Regions from separate parts of the Homo sapiens genome. Here region 2 is linked to region 1. A link means that fine-mapping ties the variant in region 1 to the expression of a gene that starts in the linked region. Tissue or cell type: minor salivary gland. Region 1 holds a variant in brackets; the other region holds the start of a gene. All regions are shown on one strand. Distances are from middle to middle.

The links. PIP is the estimated chance that this variant, and not a neighbour inherited with it, causes the effect.
Region 2: TTLL12 starts here. The variant in region 1 is fine-mapped to the expression of TTLL12 in minor salivary gland (GTEx, PIP 0.91).

What each region holds. Positions count from the first base shown.
Region 1 is chr22:43,214,675-43,222,772 of GRCh38, reverse strand. It overlaps SCUBE1 (signal peptide, CUB domain and EGF like domain containing 1), which reads left to right. Exons shown (of 22, transcript NM_173050.5): 12 at 31-135; 13 at 1,484-1,600; 14 at 2,186-2,323; 15 at 4,315-4,518. Among named protein-coding and RNA genes, the nearest start is that of SCUBE1-AS2, 6.0 kb to the right of the region's middle. RefSeq lists an enhancer at 2,025-2,526. The variant A/G (reference allele first, on the strand shown) is at 3,218.
Region 2 is chr22:43,183,988-43,192,076 of GRCh38, reverse strand. TTLL12 (tubulin tyrosine ligase like 12) reads left to right here and starts at 4,943. Exons shown (of 14, transcript NM_015140.4): 1 at 4,943-5,184. The coding sequence starts at 5,008. RefSeq lists silencers at 4,530-4,649, 4,898-5,057, 5,098-5,317 and enhancers at 5,698-5,757, 5,768-5,847, 5,788-6,292.

The DNA of each region.
Region 1 (8,098 bases):
GGCCCACCTCACCCACCGGCTTCTCTGCAGACTCGGAAAATAGCTACGTCCTGAGCTGCGGAGTTCCAGGGCCGCAGGGCAAGGCGCTGCAGAAACGCAACGGCACCAGCTCTGGCCTCGGGCCCAGCTGCTCAGGTAACCCCCCCGGCCTGTCCATGCTGCATGCCACTGGGTGACTTGACTGCATCCAGCAACATGCTGGCGGGGGAGGAAAGGGCACCGCCCAGGGAAGACCTTCCTGCTCTCGGCCCTGCTCCGTGTGGCCTGGGGTGCTGGCGATGAGCCAGGCCCAGGACCTAGAAGCCAGCAGGCTGCAGGCCGAGTTCTAGCCCAGGGTCAGGGGACCGTGGGAGGGCCCTTCCGGCTCTGAGGTCACAGCCAGAGTGGTTCAGGGACTCTAACGTGCTGTGAGTGCACAGATCTCAGACTGTATGGGTGGAGCAAGCCACATCTGCTGTGGCTATTAGGTTCTCCCGAGTCAGAGCTGGCCTGGCCGTGCAGAGCATGCCAAGAAGCGCCGAGGTGCAGCACAGTCCCAGCCCTTTGGGAGTGACCCGCTGGGCTTGGTCGGCATGGCACAGCCAGCCTTAGCTCCTGCCAGCTAAGGAGCTGAGGGTTGTGTCTTCAGCAGCTTTTCTTATTCAGGATGCTGGATTTGATAGATAGGTGCATTTCTGTATGTTTCTTTATTATTATTATTATTATTTTTAAAACGGAGTCTCGCTCTGTCACCCAGGCTGGAGTGCAGTGGCGTGATCTCGGCTCACTGCAACCTCCGCCTCCCAGGTTCAAGCAATTCTCCTGCCTCAGCCTCCTGAGTAGCTGGGATTACAGGTGCCCATCACCACACCTGGCTAATTTTTGTATTTTTAGTAGAGACATGGTTTCACCATGTTGGTCAGGCTAGTCTGGAACTCCTGACCTCAAGTGATCCGCCTGCCTCGGCCTCCCAGAGTGCTAGGATTACAGGCGTGAGCCACCGCACCCTGCCCATTTCTATATATTTAATGCATATGTGATTTGATTCTAAGCACCTGTGGTGGTAGGATTCTTTAGTCCAAGGGCTATGATTTGCTCTTGCAAGGAACCGGCAGTCCTGGATCTATAGTATTTCAAAGCCCCTTCCCTTCCTTGCTGTCCTATCTCTCTTCTGTTCTACGCTCTTTCCTAAAGCACAATCATGGCTTGCTGATGGGGAGGAGGTAGGAGGATCCCTGTCCTCCTTCTCAGAAGACCTCTGGCGGGTGGCCCCTGGGCTTGAGCTTGACCCCACCATCCATGTGTTCACCTGTTTTAGGCCTTGCAGGGAGAGAAATGGGGCAGGAGAGGGTCCCCCACCCCAGGAGAGCTGTCGGGGCACAGGGACTCAGATCAAGCCCCACCCCCAGCTCCAGATGGATTTGTCCCCTGGCAGCCCCCGTCCCCCACCACCTCCTTGCCTGCAGGAGAGGCCACCACCTGGGGGAATTTTGGCTTTCCCCAGATGCCCCCACCACCCCCATCAAACAGAAGGCCCGCTTCAAGATCCGAGATGCCAAGTGCCACCTCCGGCCCCACAGCCAGGCACGAGCAAAGGAGACCGCCAGGCAGCCGCTGCTGGGTGAGTGGGACGCCCTGCTCCTAACCCACACCAACGGGGCTGTAGGAGAGTCCTCATGCCTGGGAGCTGGGGCCCCAGGGTCCAGCGAGTCTGGTTTCCAAGGGTGGAGGTCTCTCTCACCTGGCAGCTGTTTATTGAATGAGAGTTTCCAAGGACATTGCAGGCTGGGGAAACAGCGGAGGGCAAGCTTGGTACGAGGGGCCCCGGAGGAAGGCACCAGCTCTGTCCCCGTGAAGATTCCTTCTCAAACCTAACAGAGCTCTCAGCACGCAGCAGGCTCTGCCCAGAGCCGAGTCTGCACTGGCCAAACCCTCAGCAGGCCCAGAGCTGGGGGCACAGCCTCATTCATGAATATGTATGAGATGCCTCCACCTGCAGCAGCGTGATGGACCGGGCGTGAGACCTGGCTCAGCCACCAGCCCCTCCTGAGACCCCGAGCCAGCCCTGACCTTCTCTAGCCTGAGTTTTTCCGTCTGCACCACGGACCAGGAAGTCCTTGCCAATGGCACTCTGTATGCAGGGCTTGGTAGGACCTTGCTCCCTGCCCCATGCCGCCTTTGCCACAGTGGTCCTTTCCTCGTCCAGACCACTGCCATGTGACTTTCGTGACCCTCAAGTGTGACTCCTCCAAGAAGAGGCGCCGTGGCCGCAAGTCCCCATCCAAGGAGGTGTCCCACATCACAGCAGAGTTTGAGATCGAGACAAAGATGGAAGAGGCCTCAGGTAGGTGAGGGGTTCTCCTGGGGGCTTCTGCAGGCCTGAAGGAGGACGACAGGCTGGTGGCGCTGCCGGGGGCCTGCCAGGCATGAAGCTAGGCTCCCACCAGAGCACAGCTGTGGCTGGGATGGGAGCCCAGCTTCTGGAGACAGAGGCAGGCCCACAAGCAAAGGGAGCTGGCAGGGGTCAACGCTTGCAGCCCAGGATAGAAGAGGCAGCCCAGGGCAATGAGACAGAAGAGCCGAGGTGACCTCAAAAGTCACATGACCCTTATCTGCCCCTCCACACTCCTGCTGGGACCCGGGAGGACAAATAGGTGCAGCCCCCCTAGAATGGTTGAGCCAAGGATTGTCTTTCCTGGTTCCTGAAGGAGGTTCTAATGCTGGCTCGGGTGTCACAGCAGCACTTTGCTCTTGGCTATATGTGAGTGTCAACCTGTGAGTCGTTGATGTTGAAGAGATGGGATCTGTCAGCAGATAAGTGTGGTATGGGCCTGGCTGTGGGCTTGGGCGCTGTGGAAAGAAAAGTCCCCACCCAGGTAACACTCTCAGCCAGAGAGGCAGACGCACGTGCAAACCACCCATTGCCAGGTGGGACTCTCGGTGGTGGGGGCACAAGAACAAACAATGCATAGAACTGAGGTCTGCCCCCCACGGGAGGGCTTAGGAAATGTCTTAGTCTGGCTGGGCACACTGGCTCACGCCTGTAATCCCAGCAGTCTGGGAGGGCCAAAGTGGGTGGATCACTTGAGTTCAGGAGTTCAAGACCAGCCTGGCCAACATGGTGAAACCCTGTCTCTACTAAAAATACAAAAATTAGCCAGGTGTGGTGGCAGGCACCTGTAATCCCAGCTACTCAGGAGGCTGAGGCAGGAGAATCGCTTGAACCTGGGAGGCAGAG[A/G]TTGCAGTGAGCTGAGATCGCGCCACTGTGCTCCAGCCTGGCGACGAGTGAGACTCTATCTCAAAAAAAAAAAAAGGAAATGTTTTAGTCTATTTGCGTTGCTAAAAGGAACACCTGAGGCTGCATAATTTATCAGGAAAAGAGCTTATTGGCTCTCGGCTCTGCAGGCTGTCCGAGAACACGGCAGCAGCATCTGCCTGGCGAGGCCTTAGGCTGCTTCTGCTCACGGAGGAAGGTGAAGAGCAGCTGGCATCACATAGCAAGAGTAAGGGAGCAAGAGAGAGGGGAGGGGGTGCCTATGTCTTCACCAGTCACATCTCGTGGCGACTAGTAGAGCCAGCAAGAACTGACTACCACACCAGGCCATTCATGAGGGACCTACCCCATGACCCAGACACCTCCCACCAGGCCCCACCCCCAGCATTAGGGATCAGATTTCAACATGAGGTTTGGAAGAGACAAATATTGAAACCATATCAGGAAGCTTTCCCAGAAGAGGTGCCATTTGAATGAGAGCTTAGAATCAAAGCTCACTGGGTGGAAAAGGTGGCAAGGAATGGCATTCAGGCAGAGGGAATAGAATAGGCAAAGGCACAGAGGTCAGAGAGAGGAGGAGGTGTCCAGGAAGCAGTAAGTAGGGCCAGGTGGCTAGACATTGGAATCCACAGGGAGTGTCAGAGTGGAGGGGATGAGGCTGGCAAGGCCATACGGGGCTGGACCTTGAAGGGCCTTGGATTCAAGGCCAGAGAGCTGGACACTATCCTGGGGACAGTGGCAGTCCCCAAGAGTCTTTGAGTGACAGAAAGGCGTTCTTGCCCCGTGAGTCGTACCCTGGGGGGTGATGTGGTGCAGTGGCAGCTGCCTGGATTGCACTCAGATCTGCTGCGTGGCCGTGGGCAGGCCCTGCCTCCCAGGTCCGCAGCCTCCTCATCTGTCAGATGGGCATGACAGTGGCCCCTTGCCCCAGGACTGTTGTGAGAATGTGCTGAGGAGGTCCGAGCCCAGTGCAGGGCCTGGCACGGGGGAGCCCTCAGCTAAGAAGGCAGCGGCTAGCAAGGTTGCCAGCGATTCATGTTCTGTCTCTCCTGCCCCTGCAGACACATGCGAAGCGGACTGCTTGCGGAAGCGAGCAGAACAGAGCCTGCAGGCCGCCATCAAGACCCTGCGCAAGTCCATCGGCCGGCAGCAGTTCTATGTCCAGGTCTCAGGCACTGAGTACGAGGTAGCCCAGAGGCCAGCCAAGGCGCTGGAGGGGCAGGGGGCATGTGGCGCAGGCCAGGTGCTACAGGACAGCAAATGCGGTGAGTCCTTGCCCATGGCCACTCAGATGCTGACTCTGTCCTTCCTTGCACATGAGCCGGGGTAAACAGTGGTGGGCACGCAGGTGAGACAGACACCTGGGGAGGGGACAGAGAGATGCAGAGGCCTGCCGGGGAGAAGGACTGCAGCCCTCATGGTCATCACTGTCATTTGAAGAGCACTCCTCTGTGCTGGGCCTCGGGCATGTGATCACAGTCTGAGGAGGGACAAGGAGTGGACAGGACAGCAAGGCCACAGTCGAGGGGCGCGAGGGGGCACGGGAACCAGAACAGGCCCTCTCTAGTCTGGGATGTGGTTCAGGGAAGCTTCCTGGAGGAGAAGTCACGTTAGCTAAGACCTCAGGGCTCCAGGAGTTGGGGAGCCTGAGTCAGGGTCGGGGGACAGAGCAGGGATGTCGTGAGGCCTAGGGCCGCCCAGGAGGGCAGCGTCGTGCTGCAGGGAAGCAGGTGAGGCCGGCCCCCAGCGGGCGGGTGTGCGCTGGAGGGGAGAGCCTGGACGCAGGACAGGCAGAACCAGCACACGAGACAGTCCTAGTTCTAGTGGAGCTCACATGCCCGTGCGGAAGATGGACAGTGGGCCAGTGAACATGCCCACAGGTACAGTGAGGCCAGAGGTGATGGGGCCTGGCAGACACCACTCTTGAGTTGGATGGGGAGCCATAGGAATGCTTAGAGCAAGGACGCAGGCTCATGCGCGCTCTTACGGGAAGGCTGAGTAGCGGGGGCGGAGCAAGGACGGGGAGGAGCATGAGATGGAGGGGGCTCCTAGGGAGAGACAGACTTCAAGGACGACTCCAAGGGTTTGGCCAATTGGGCAGAGGTGGTATCGCTTCCTGACGCCGGCCAAATCCCCAAGGATTTGAGGAAGAGTGGGCTGGGGGGAGGGAAACTTGATGAAGAGTGGGCTGCGGGGATGGGGTGCGCAGGCTGGACATGTTCAGTCTGAGACGCTCACAAGTCATCCACATGGAGATGTTGGATGGGCAGTTGCAGCCACAAGTCCGAAGCCTCAAACAATAGGGTTGGCCAGGGGTGTAAACTGGGAAGCCGGAGGAGAAGAAATGATACCTGGCGGGGGAGGAGGGAAGCTGTTGGAGAAGAGGTGACACCTGGCGGATGGGGGGTGGGGGTTGGGGGAAGCTGTTGGTAAAGAGGTGACACCTGGCAGGGTGGGGAAGCTGTTGGTAAAGAGGTGACACCTGGCGGGGTGGGGAAGCTGTTGGTAAAGAGGTGACACCTGGCGGGGTGGGGGGAAGCTGTTAGAGAAGAGGTGACGGCAGTGTTGGGGGAAGCTGTTGGAAAAGAGGTGACACCTGGCAGTGGGGGTGGGAGGGAAGCTGTTGGTAAAGAGATGACACCTGGCGGGGGGTGGGTGGGGGGAAGTTGTTGATAAAGAGGTGACACCTGGAGAGGGCGGGGAAGCTGTTGGTAAAGAGATGACACCTGGCAGGGGAAGGGCCAGGTTGGGGAAGCTGGGACTCTGGCTCAGACAGTGGAGGGGGACAGCCGTACTGACAAGGGGGGACAAAGGGAGCTTGGTGATGTCATCTTCTACTTTCTTTTTTTGTTTGTTTGTTTTTATTTTTGAGACAGAGTCTCGCTCTGTAGCCAGGCTGCAGTGCAATGGTGTAATCTCAGCTCACCGCAACTCTGCCTCCCAGGTTCAACCTATTCTACTGCCTCAGCCTCCCAAGTAGCTAGGACTACAGGTGCGCGCCACCGTGTCCGGCTAATTTTTGTATTTTTAGTAGAGACAGGGTTTCACTATGTTGGCCAGGCTGGTCTCAAACTCCTGACCTCATGATCTGCCCACCTCGGCCTCCCAAAGTGCTGGGATTATGGGTGTGAGCCACTGCGCCCAGCCTCTTCTACTTTCAATAACTTATTTTGGGCCGGGCATGGTAGCTCACGCCTGTAATCCCAGCACTTTGGGAGGCCGAGACAGGTGGATCACCTGAGGTCAGGAGTTTGAGACCAGCCTGGCCAACATGGTGAAACCCCGTCTCTACTAAAAATACAAAAATTAGCTGGGTGTGGTGGCGAGCGCCTGCAATCCTAGCTACTGGGGAGGCTGAGACAGGAGAGTCACTTGAACCTGGGAGGCAGAGGTTGCAGTGAGCTGAGATCACACCACTGCACTCCAGCCTGGGTGACAGAGCGAGACTCCATCCCAAAATAAAAATAAATAACTTATTTTGAAATTATTTCAAAGTTTCAGAAACATTGTCAAGCAGAACAAAAAACTTCCATATTTTCTTCATCCAAATTCCCCAATTGTGCACATTTGACCACATCTGCCCCGTCTCCCACACGTGTGCATGTGTGTGAGTGTGCATGCATGTGTGAGTGTGTAGTCTTCACCATCCAACCCACACACCCACCCCATTCAGCTCCAGCAATCCTTCCAACAATGTCCCTTTTGTTTTTCTGGTCCCAGCTCCCATCCAGAAAGACATGTCACCCTCCACTGTGTCTTCAGGCTCCTTCAGTCTGGAGCCGCTTCTCCCCTTTCCCTGCCTCTCCTGCCCTTGTCCCAAACTCACCTCCTCTAGGCTAACGCTCAGAGCTCCCTCTGGTTTTTCCTGGGGACCTGACTCAGGGCCCAGGGTCCAGCAGGAACCTCAGCTTCGAGGCCTAATCCTGGGTGCCCCATCAGCAGGCACAGGATACCCCCAGCCCGCCACTGGCTTCACTTTCACTCGCCATTTTCTCTCTGTGATTGATGAGTGTTTTCTGAGTTTGGACCAATATTCTCCTCCTCATCAAACTTCTGCACAGCTCCCGCCATGTCAGCCACCTCTACCATTTGTTCCATGTTCCACGCTCACTAGTCACATTCTCCTGTAGGAAAGTGGGTGGCCATGGCCGTTTACCTCTGGGTCTGTATCCCTATAGACTCAGATTCCCCTTACTCATTGCGTGGTGATCCATTCCTGATGTTATTTAGTTCGGCGCTCACTGTGTCCCCAGGGTAGCCAGGGATGCCCCACCAAGCTGGCTCTTGGGTCTGTCTGACCTGCCACACACATGCTGCGAGCCTCCCCTTCAGATCCAACTGACACTCTCCATCCCCTGGCATCAGCCAAATCCCCAAGGACCCCTGGTTCCTTTGAGAGGAGGATGATGGGTAGAAACCAAAATCTGGGATATTCATTGCTCCTGGAGTACCACTGCCTCTAGGCCCTCTCATCGGACAGAACTGGAAAGCATAGATGTGTATACACGTGCACACACAGGCATGGGAATCTATGGGTGGGGGGGTTCTAAAACCATGAATTCATGCCAGTGCCTCCCGTTCCACACCTCAGGGTCTTTTCTAACCTTCACTCCCCATTTCCGCATTTGTAAGCATCTTCTCCAGCACTGAGAAACTCGGCTCCCTTTCTCCTGAATTTACTGATTTACTCAGTTTCCTTACTTACTCATCAGTCGACGTATTTGTTCAGTGTAGCCAACCAGACTGCGCTGTCTTCAGCCCATCATCTCCTCGCTACGCCCCTCCCACCTCGCCCGCCAGGCCCTCCTGCCCTTGCCTATTTGAGCCCCAGTCCCTCCCCACTGC
Region 2 (8,089 bases), 31 kb after region 1:
TTGTAAGGATTGGGGAGGCTCCAGAAAGGAACAGTTTCAGCTAGCTTTGACTCAGTGTTTTGTAGGAAGGCAATCTTTGAGTCCTGAATGGACTTGTTTTTTAGCCTCAAGGTATCAATGAGAAATACATACTTAGAGTGTATGATTTTATAACCATGGTCTTTTAATTTAAAGAATAAACTGAATGATCCCTATAATGTTTGAATATATTACTAGCTGGAGTCCTAGAAAATTTGGCATGCCTTTGAACTTTGAGACCTCATTTTAACTAAATATATCTAGGTGACTGAGATTGGTTTTTTCCCTTTTTTTTTTTTTTTTAGTGGCTTATCCAGCAAGTAAGGTGATTTAGTTTAATGTTGAGTACACAAAGGCCAAAGAAACACAAACAGACAGAAAATATAAGTATGTACTCACCAGGAAGAATAATAGTCATCTTCAAATGAGGGGAAAAAAATCCCCTCATCCAAACCTCAAGATCCAGACCTCACAGCTGAGATCAACAGGAGGAAAATAACCCTCCCCAACAGCAGATATCCCACACAGGACAGGGAAAGTCACCTCCCCAGCCATTTCCCAAATAAGAGAGAACTCAAACCAAATTCAGGAGTTCTGTCCAAGAGAGACTTACCAGGTGGGAGAAGAGGTGACTCACAAAGGTAGAAGGGTGTCAGAGGGCCCCAGTGTGAGATTCTCCCCAAAGTGGTTCAGTGCTTGGTCCCACTGCTGACACCATGTATGTCAAAATCAAAAATGTAGAGACAGCTCTGTAAACTTAATGTGTGTAGTTTTTTGTTTTTTTGTTTGTTTTTTTGAGACAGGGCTTCACTGTGTTGCTCAGGCTGGAATGCAGTGACACAGTCATGGCTCACTGCAGCCTCAACCTCCAGGGCTCCAGCAATCCTCCCGCCTCAGCCTCCCGAATATCTGGGACTACAGGCACCCACGACCATACCTGGCTAATTTTTGTATTTTTTGTACAGATGGGGTTTCACTGTGTTGCTCAGGCTGATCTCAAACTCCTGGGCTCAACCAATCTGCCCACCTTGACCTCCCAAAGTGTTGGGATTACAGGCATGAACTACCATGCCTGGCCTAAATGTAATGTTTTATTTGTGAAGAAGGAACTGCCATTCAGGGTGCACCTACAGACCAGGTGGTCTTTGCTTTGTCCGAAGAACAAAGAGAAGGTTAGAAGTTTTATTTAAAACAGAGAAATGGGCCAGGCACAGTTGCTCATGCCTACAATCCCAGTGCTCTGGGCTAAGGCAGAAGGATCACTTGAGGCCAGGAGTTTGAGACCAGCCTAAGCAACACAATGAGACCCCTGTCTCCACAGAAAACTTAAAAATTAGCCAGGCATAGTGGCACATGCTTGTAGTCCTAGCTACTCAGGAGGCTGAGGTGGGAGGATTGCTTGAGCCCAGGAGTTCAAGGCTGCAGTGAGCTATGATTGCGTCACTGGCCACTGCACTCTAGCCTGGGCAACAAAGTGAGACCCTTCCTCAAAAAGAAAAAAAAGAAGAAGAAATGTTACATATTGCTCTTTGAGAAAGTTCACTGGTACTTGTAAGGGTTTGGGGAGTTAGTAAGCTCAGCTTGGTGAGCCTTATTAGTCCTAGAGTTGCAGTCAGTTATCTCAGAAGTTATCAATAAATGGTTTTAGGTTACCACAAGCAGTTTCAGCAGTCGGGCTTACAGAGAATTACATTTTGGGAACAATGCCTTGCACCCCAAATGCTTTTTCCCTCTTGGCTTCTCAACTCTGTTTTAATTATGACAAGAATGACCCAATTTTTTTTTTTTTTTTTTTTTTTTGTGAGTTGGAGTCTCACTCTGTGGCCCAGGCTGGAGTGCAGTGGTACGATCTCGGCTCACTGAAACCTCTGCCACCAGGGATCAAGCAATTCTCCTGCCTCAGCCTTCCAAGTAGCTGGGGTTACAGGCACCGCACCAAGGCTAATTTTTGTAGTTTTAGCAGAGACGGGGGTTTCACCATCTTGGCCAGGCTGGTCTTGAACTCCTGACCTAGTGATCTACCCACCTCGGCCTCCCAAAGTGCTGAGATTACAGGGGTGAGCAACCACGCCTGGTGACCCAATTCTTATGATCAACTTTCACAAAGTCATTGTATTGGGTTTAGGCTCCATGTTGTATGAAAAACCCATTTTGTATGAGTACCCTTGGCAAAGCTCTCAGAACAAAAAGCTATCAGGGACCAAAGGTCAACCTGGGCTTGGATTTTCAGGATGGAAGGGCCTTTTTTATTTTTAGACGGAGTTTCCCCCAGGCTGGAGTGAGTTGATGCGATCTTGGCTCACTGCAACCTCCATACCCCCACCCCTGGGTTCAAGCAATTCTCCTGCCTCAGCCTCCTGAGTAGCTGGGATTGTAGGTGCCCACCACCATGCTCGGCTAAATTTTGTATTTTTAGTAGAGATGGGGTTTCACCATGTTGGTCAACCTGGTTTCGAACTCCTGATCTCAGGTGATCCACCCGCCTTGGCCTCCCAAAGTGCTAGGATTACAGGCATGAGCCACTGTGCCCGGCTATGGAAGGGACTTTTAAACTCTTTTTTTTTTCCCTGTTTCTCTCTCTCCTTTTTTTCAATTGTCTGGAGGGGGAGGGGGTTGGTGGCAGTAATGGGAGCAGAGCAGTAATTTTATGTTGATTAAATACACATTCTTCAGTGCCTCTTTAGAAGACAACATTTCAGCTGAGAAGAATGAGTCAGGATTTACAAAGTGAGCATGGGGAGAAAGGCTTTCTGGCAGAAAACAGAGCACAATGCTTTCCAGGAGCTGAAGACAACCAGAGATACAGGGACTCACAGTGTGAGGGGAAGAGTGTAATGAAAAGAGGCTGGAAAAGTTGGCAGTGCCAGCTCACACAGAGCCTTGGAGCTCAGGTGAAGAGTTGAACCACAAAGGGTTCCAAGTAGGGATCTGATACAACTGGGTTTACATTTGGGGAGGAGCATGTGAAAGAGGACTGCCCTGTCAGAGCCTCACATTCTCCTGGTCAAAGGGGCTGGGTCAGGAATGTTCACATAATCTGACCAGTACCTGACACAACTGAGACTCAGTCTGTCTTCCCCAGCGGGACCGATGGAAGGGTTGTGGAAGCGGGAGGTGCACTAGGTGTGTACCACTATACCTGGCTAATTAAAAATTTCTTTTTGTAGGGTCGAGGTCTTGCTTTGTTGCCCAGCCTGGTCTCAAACTCCTTATTTCAAGTGATCCTCCTGTCTTGGCCTCCCAAAGTGCTGGAATTACAGGTGTGAGCCAGCATGCCCCATCCTAGCATTGTGATGCTGTTTTACTATATTATTTATTTTGAGATGGAGTCTCGCTATGTTGACCAGGTTGGAGTGCAATGGTACAATCTCAGCCTTGGCTTCCACAACAAAAACCGAGGAATCAGGGTTTTCCTCTGGCCATGGTGAAACCCTGTCTCTACTGAATACAAAAAATTAGCCAGGCGTGGTGGCACACACCTGTAGCCCCAGCTACTTGGGAGGCTGAGGCAGGAGAATCACTTGAACCCGGGAGGCAGAGGTTGCAGTGAACCGAGACTGCACCATTGCACTCCAGCCTGGGCAACAAGAGCAAAACTCCATCCCAAAATAAATAAATAAATAAAATGTTTTTCTCTGCAGCCCTCACCAACTTGAGTTTGGAAATTTTTGCCTTTGCAGACCCACCTGCTTCCTACAATGGAATTGAACAAGTCCGTGAATTGGTGCATTTTATTCAAACTCAGTTCAAAAATGTTATCAAAATAGCATCTGAAGCTCCAAAAAATTTTCAGCCTTTGTTTTTTAGCAAATTACAATTCTTACAAAATTGCAAAAAGGAAGACATTGAAATGTATCCCTATGGAGCAATAAAACTCAATGAGAGTTCAAAAGAGAATGTCTTTTGAAATTCTATAACTGAACTGTTTTCTTTTAAAGAGGGAGTCTGGCTATGTTGCCGAGGCTGGACTTGAATTCTTGGGCTCAAGCTATCCTCCCGCCTCAGCCTCCCGAGTAACTGGGACTACAGACGCGGCCACCACGCCCAGCTCAACTGCACTTCGAAACATCCCGACATGTAGGAGTAAATTCCTCTGACGGGTACACTTGGTCTTAATTGGATCAACTGACATTCCGAATCCAAATATAAGTAATTGAGAAGGGCCACGATTTTGCAGCATCCAAATCTGGTGAAACGCTCACAAGAATCGAGAGCTCCCAAGGCAGGGGGCCTGCGAGCTCTGTGTGCCCGGTGCAGGCACAGAAGCGCCGCCTCACCGGGTTCGGGCCCCAGGACACCTTCCGGGCCGTCGGTGGGGCCTTTTCCGGTCCTGACAGCGCCCTATACGTAGGCACCCCGCCCTCCCGGCATTCCCCGGGGTCGCCGCGCGCTGAGCGAGAAAAGCTCAGCCACCATCAGGTGCGCGTGCGCACACGGCGGCAGCCAAACCACAGGCGCGGTCGCAGACGCGCGCCCCCTCCTGGCAAGCTCGCGCGCTCTCGCACGCACCCCGCCGATGCGCAGGGCCTGCCCGGGGGCCGCGGCAAACCGGGCTGGAGGCGGACTGGGGGCGGGGCGGGACGGGGTGAGGGGGCGAGAAGAGGGCGGGGCAGGGGAGGGGTCGGGGGGGCCGGGAGGAGGACGGGGCGGTGGGGAGGGGGGCAGGGGGCGGGGGCAGGGGGCGCGGCAGGGGCGGGGGGCTGGGGGGAGGACGGGGCGGTGGGCGGGGGGCTGGGAGGAGGACGGGGCGGGGGTGCTGGGAGGCGGGCGGGGCGGGGGGCGGAGGCGGGGGGGGCTGGGAGGAGGGCGGGGCGGGGGGGGGCTGGGAGGAGGGCGGGGCGGGGGGGGGCTGGGAGGAGGGCGGGGCGGGGGGGGGGGCGCTGGGAGGAGGGCGGGGCGGGGCAGGGGGCGGAGGCGGGAGGGCAGGGCCGACGGACGGCGGGCGGCGGCGGCGGTGGCGGCGCTGGAGTCGGCGCGGGTGCTGGCGCCATGGAGGCCGAGCGGGGTCCCGAGCGCCGGCCTGCGGAGCGTAGCAGCCCGGGCCAGACGCCGGAGGAGGGCGCGCAGGCCTTGGCCGAGTTCGCGGCGCTGCACGGCCCGGCGCTGCGCGCTTCGGGGGTCCCCGAACGTTACTGGGGCCGCCTCCTGCACAAGCTGGAGCACGAGGTGCGGGGAAGGGCGGCGGGCACGTGCGGCGGCCGGGGTGGGAGCGCGGCGGGAGCCCGCGGCGCGGGACAGGGAAGAGCGCTCCCGGGCGGCGGGAGCCGCGGTGAGCCACCCAGAGCGCGTCCTGGGCAGCTCTGGAGCGGCGTGGAGTTGGGGGCCGAAGAGTGACAGCAGGAGACCGGGGTACCTGCGGCCCTGATCTGCCCGGGCCCGAGACCGGCTGAGGGCTGCGTTGGGAACTTTAGGTCCTCCACACACCCGAGCCTGACACAGCCCTGCGAGGAGTGAAACTCATCACCCCCACTTCACAGATGAGAACACTGCGGCTCCGAGAGTCCCTTCAGAGGGATTCTTTCAGCCGCTGCCTCACAGGGACAACGGGAACCCCGTGAATTTGTGTAGCTGTAACTGTTGGGTTCACAGAATTCGGTGTTTTTTCATTTGATTTGAGCCTCGGGGTCCCCTCATCTTGCAGGTTAAAGAAAACAGGCTGTGAGAGGTGGAGGAGAAATCTAAAGAAAAATGGAAAAGATTGAGAAGCCTCTAGGTTCTCTCCCTTTTTGTGAGGACGGCCCATCCGGCTCACCTGCCTCCTCCACTCCAAAGCGTTCCCCACTGTCCTGGCTGGGGATGAGCCCTGGATTTTTATTGCGTGCCCAGAGGCTGAGGCCACAGCACCTTCCCGGGCTGGCGGGGGGGGGGGTGTTTTCTTTAGCTGGGACCCGACATCTCCTCCAGGTGCTGTCTCCCGGACGGAGATGAGCCTAGTGGCGCAGGTGATGAAGTGGAAACCCCAGAGCCAAGAACAGGGACCCGGGCCGGGAACTAGGAGTCCCTGAGCCTGGCTGCTGGCCAGACTCTACGGTCTCTGAGCCAGTTTTTCTCTGTGTAATCCTGATTGGACTAGGAACCTTCCTGCTGGAAACGTGCAGTGAGTGGCACCTCCTTATGCTACAGTGTAACAGAGAGTTTCCTCTGCCCCTCACTTCTGCCATATGCTTTCCGAGGACCACTCTGGTCCCAGGCCTGTGCTGGGTGGAAGGGACCTTGGTTTGTTCATGAGGACAAAAAGGTTCCCATGGGCTGCGTGGAAGGAGCACAGTGGGAATGACCAGCTCCTGCCCAGCCAGCCTCCACGGCAGCACGCCCTCCCTCGGGCGGTCACTCGCCCGTCTGAGACCTGTTCTCCATCTGGGAAGGGGATGGTGAGACACCATCTGGCTCCCACAGTATTGGAAGGATGGGAGGTGGCATGAGAAATATGCCTGGCACACAGAGGGTGGTCGCCACCGTGCCACGTCCCCTGCCCAGGCCGCCTTGCCTGCTGTTGCCCTACTAAGGGGCAGCCAGTGTTTTTCCGTGACCCTTCCCCAGCCGTTAAGGACAGAGCTGAATCACTGCTTTACCATTCACAAACTTGCAGCTCTTCCTGAGTGAAGCCTCCTGCTGCTACTGGCCCAGGTGTGGAGGAGGCCGCCAGCAGCAGCAGCACCTGCCAGCGCTGTGGGCCCTTACACCCCTGGCCATCAGCCCTCCTGCCTCACCTTAGGCCGGCTGCCCTGGAAAGGATGGGGAAACTTGAAGATACATACATATATATATATATATATATATATATATATATATATATATATATATATATATAATTTTTTTCTTTTTTTAATTGAGACGGAGTCTTGCTCTGTCACACAGGCTGGAGTGCAGTGGCATGATCTCGGCTCACTGCAAGCTCTGCCTCCCGGGTTCAAATGATTCTCCTGCCTCAGCCTCCCGAGTAGCTGGGATTACAGACGTGCGCCACCACACCCAGCTAATTTTTGTATTTTTAGTAGAGATGGGGCTTCACCATGTTGGTCAGGCTGATCTCGAATTCCTGACCTCGTGATCCGCCCGCTTTGGCCTCCCGAAGTGTTGGGATTACAGACGTGAGCCGCCACGGCCGGCCGAAGAGATGTTTTTAAAATGTCTACTCTTCTGTCTGCACAAGCTTCCCAGTTGCAAAACCACTCCCCTTATCTCCTGGGGAGCTCTTCCAGTCCTGCCATGAAGGGGTTGTGGTGAAGGAGAAACCCAGCACCCCATTTCACAGCTGGGTTGAATCCAGGCCAGGCTTGAGACAGGCTCTCTGACCCTCAGCCTCACGCTGTCCCCTAGGGATTTGGAGTACTGGGGCGGAAGCCCGAGGTCTGGATTCCAGCCCTCTGAGCCTCCCCCCAGCCCTAAACTGGAGAAGGCAGTAGCCTCCCCAGACCCACCTTGAGGGCTAAAGGAGAACTGGATGGCTCTTGTCTCAGGTGCCTTGTCTCTCATGTGACCCCTGGTTTGCTCCACCCTGGGCTATCTGCCTCCAGGCCTTCGCTCTTACTCTTCCCTCTGCGTGGAGTTCCTTTCCATCCTCACCCCGTAGCCTCATGTTTAAATCTTCCCCTTCTTCAAAGCTGGCCTCTGGTTATGGTTCCTCATCCATAAAGTCTTCCCAGGCCCTCCAGGCCCCAGAGCAATTTACCTGATACTCTTAGGTGGCCTAGACCTTACTCAGCCTGAGCTTCCTGAGCGAGACCTTGAGTGATTCATCCTCACGCCACCAAAGGGCAAGTCCTGCCCAGTGCACAAAAGCTGCCTGCACCTGAGTACTTAGCTAGTTTCCAACTGCCGTTTTTAATCGAGTAGTGGGAAATACGTTTTAGGGAGGAACTGGCCTTTGTTGAGCCTCCACTGTGCGCCAGGACTTTATGCACGCTGTTTGATTTCATTCCATCAGTGTCCTGAAAGGTGGATGACACCCCCTCTCACAAGTGAAGAAACAGTCTCAGAAGTGTAACAATGGCGCCACGTGTTTATAGAGCATTTGCTGTGGCCAGGCTCCACTCTGAGTTCTGGGTATGAATCACCTAATCCTCCCAGT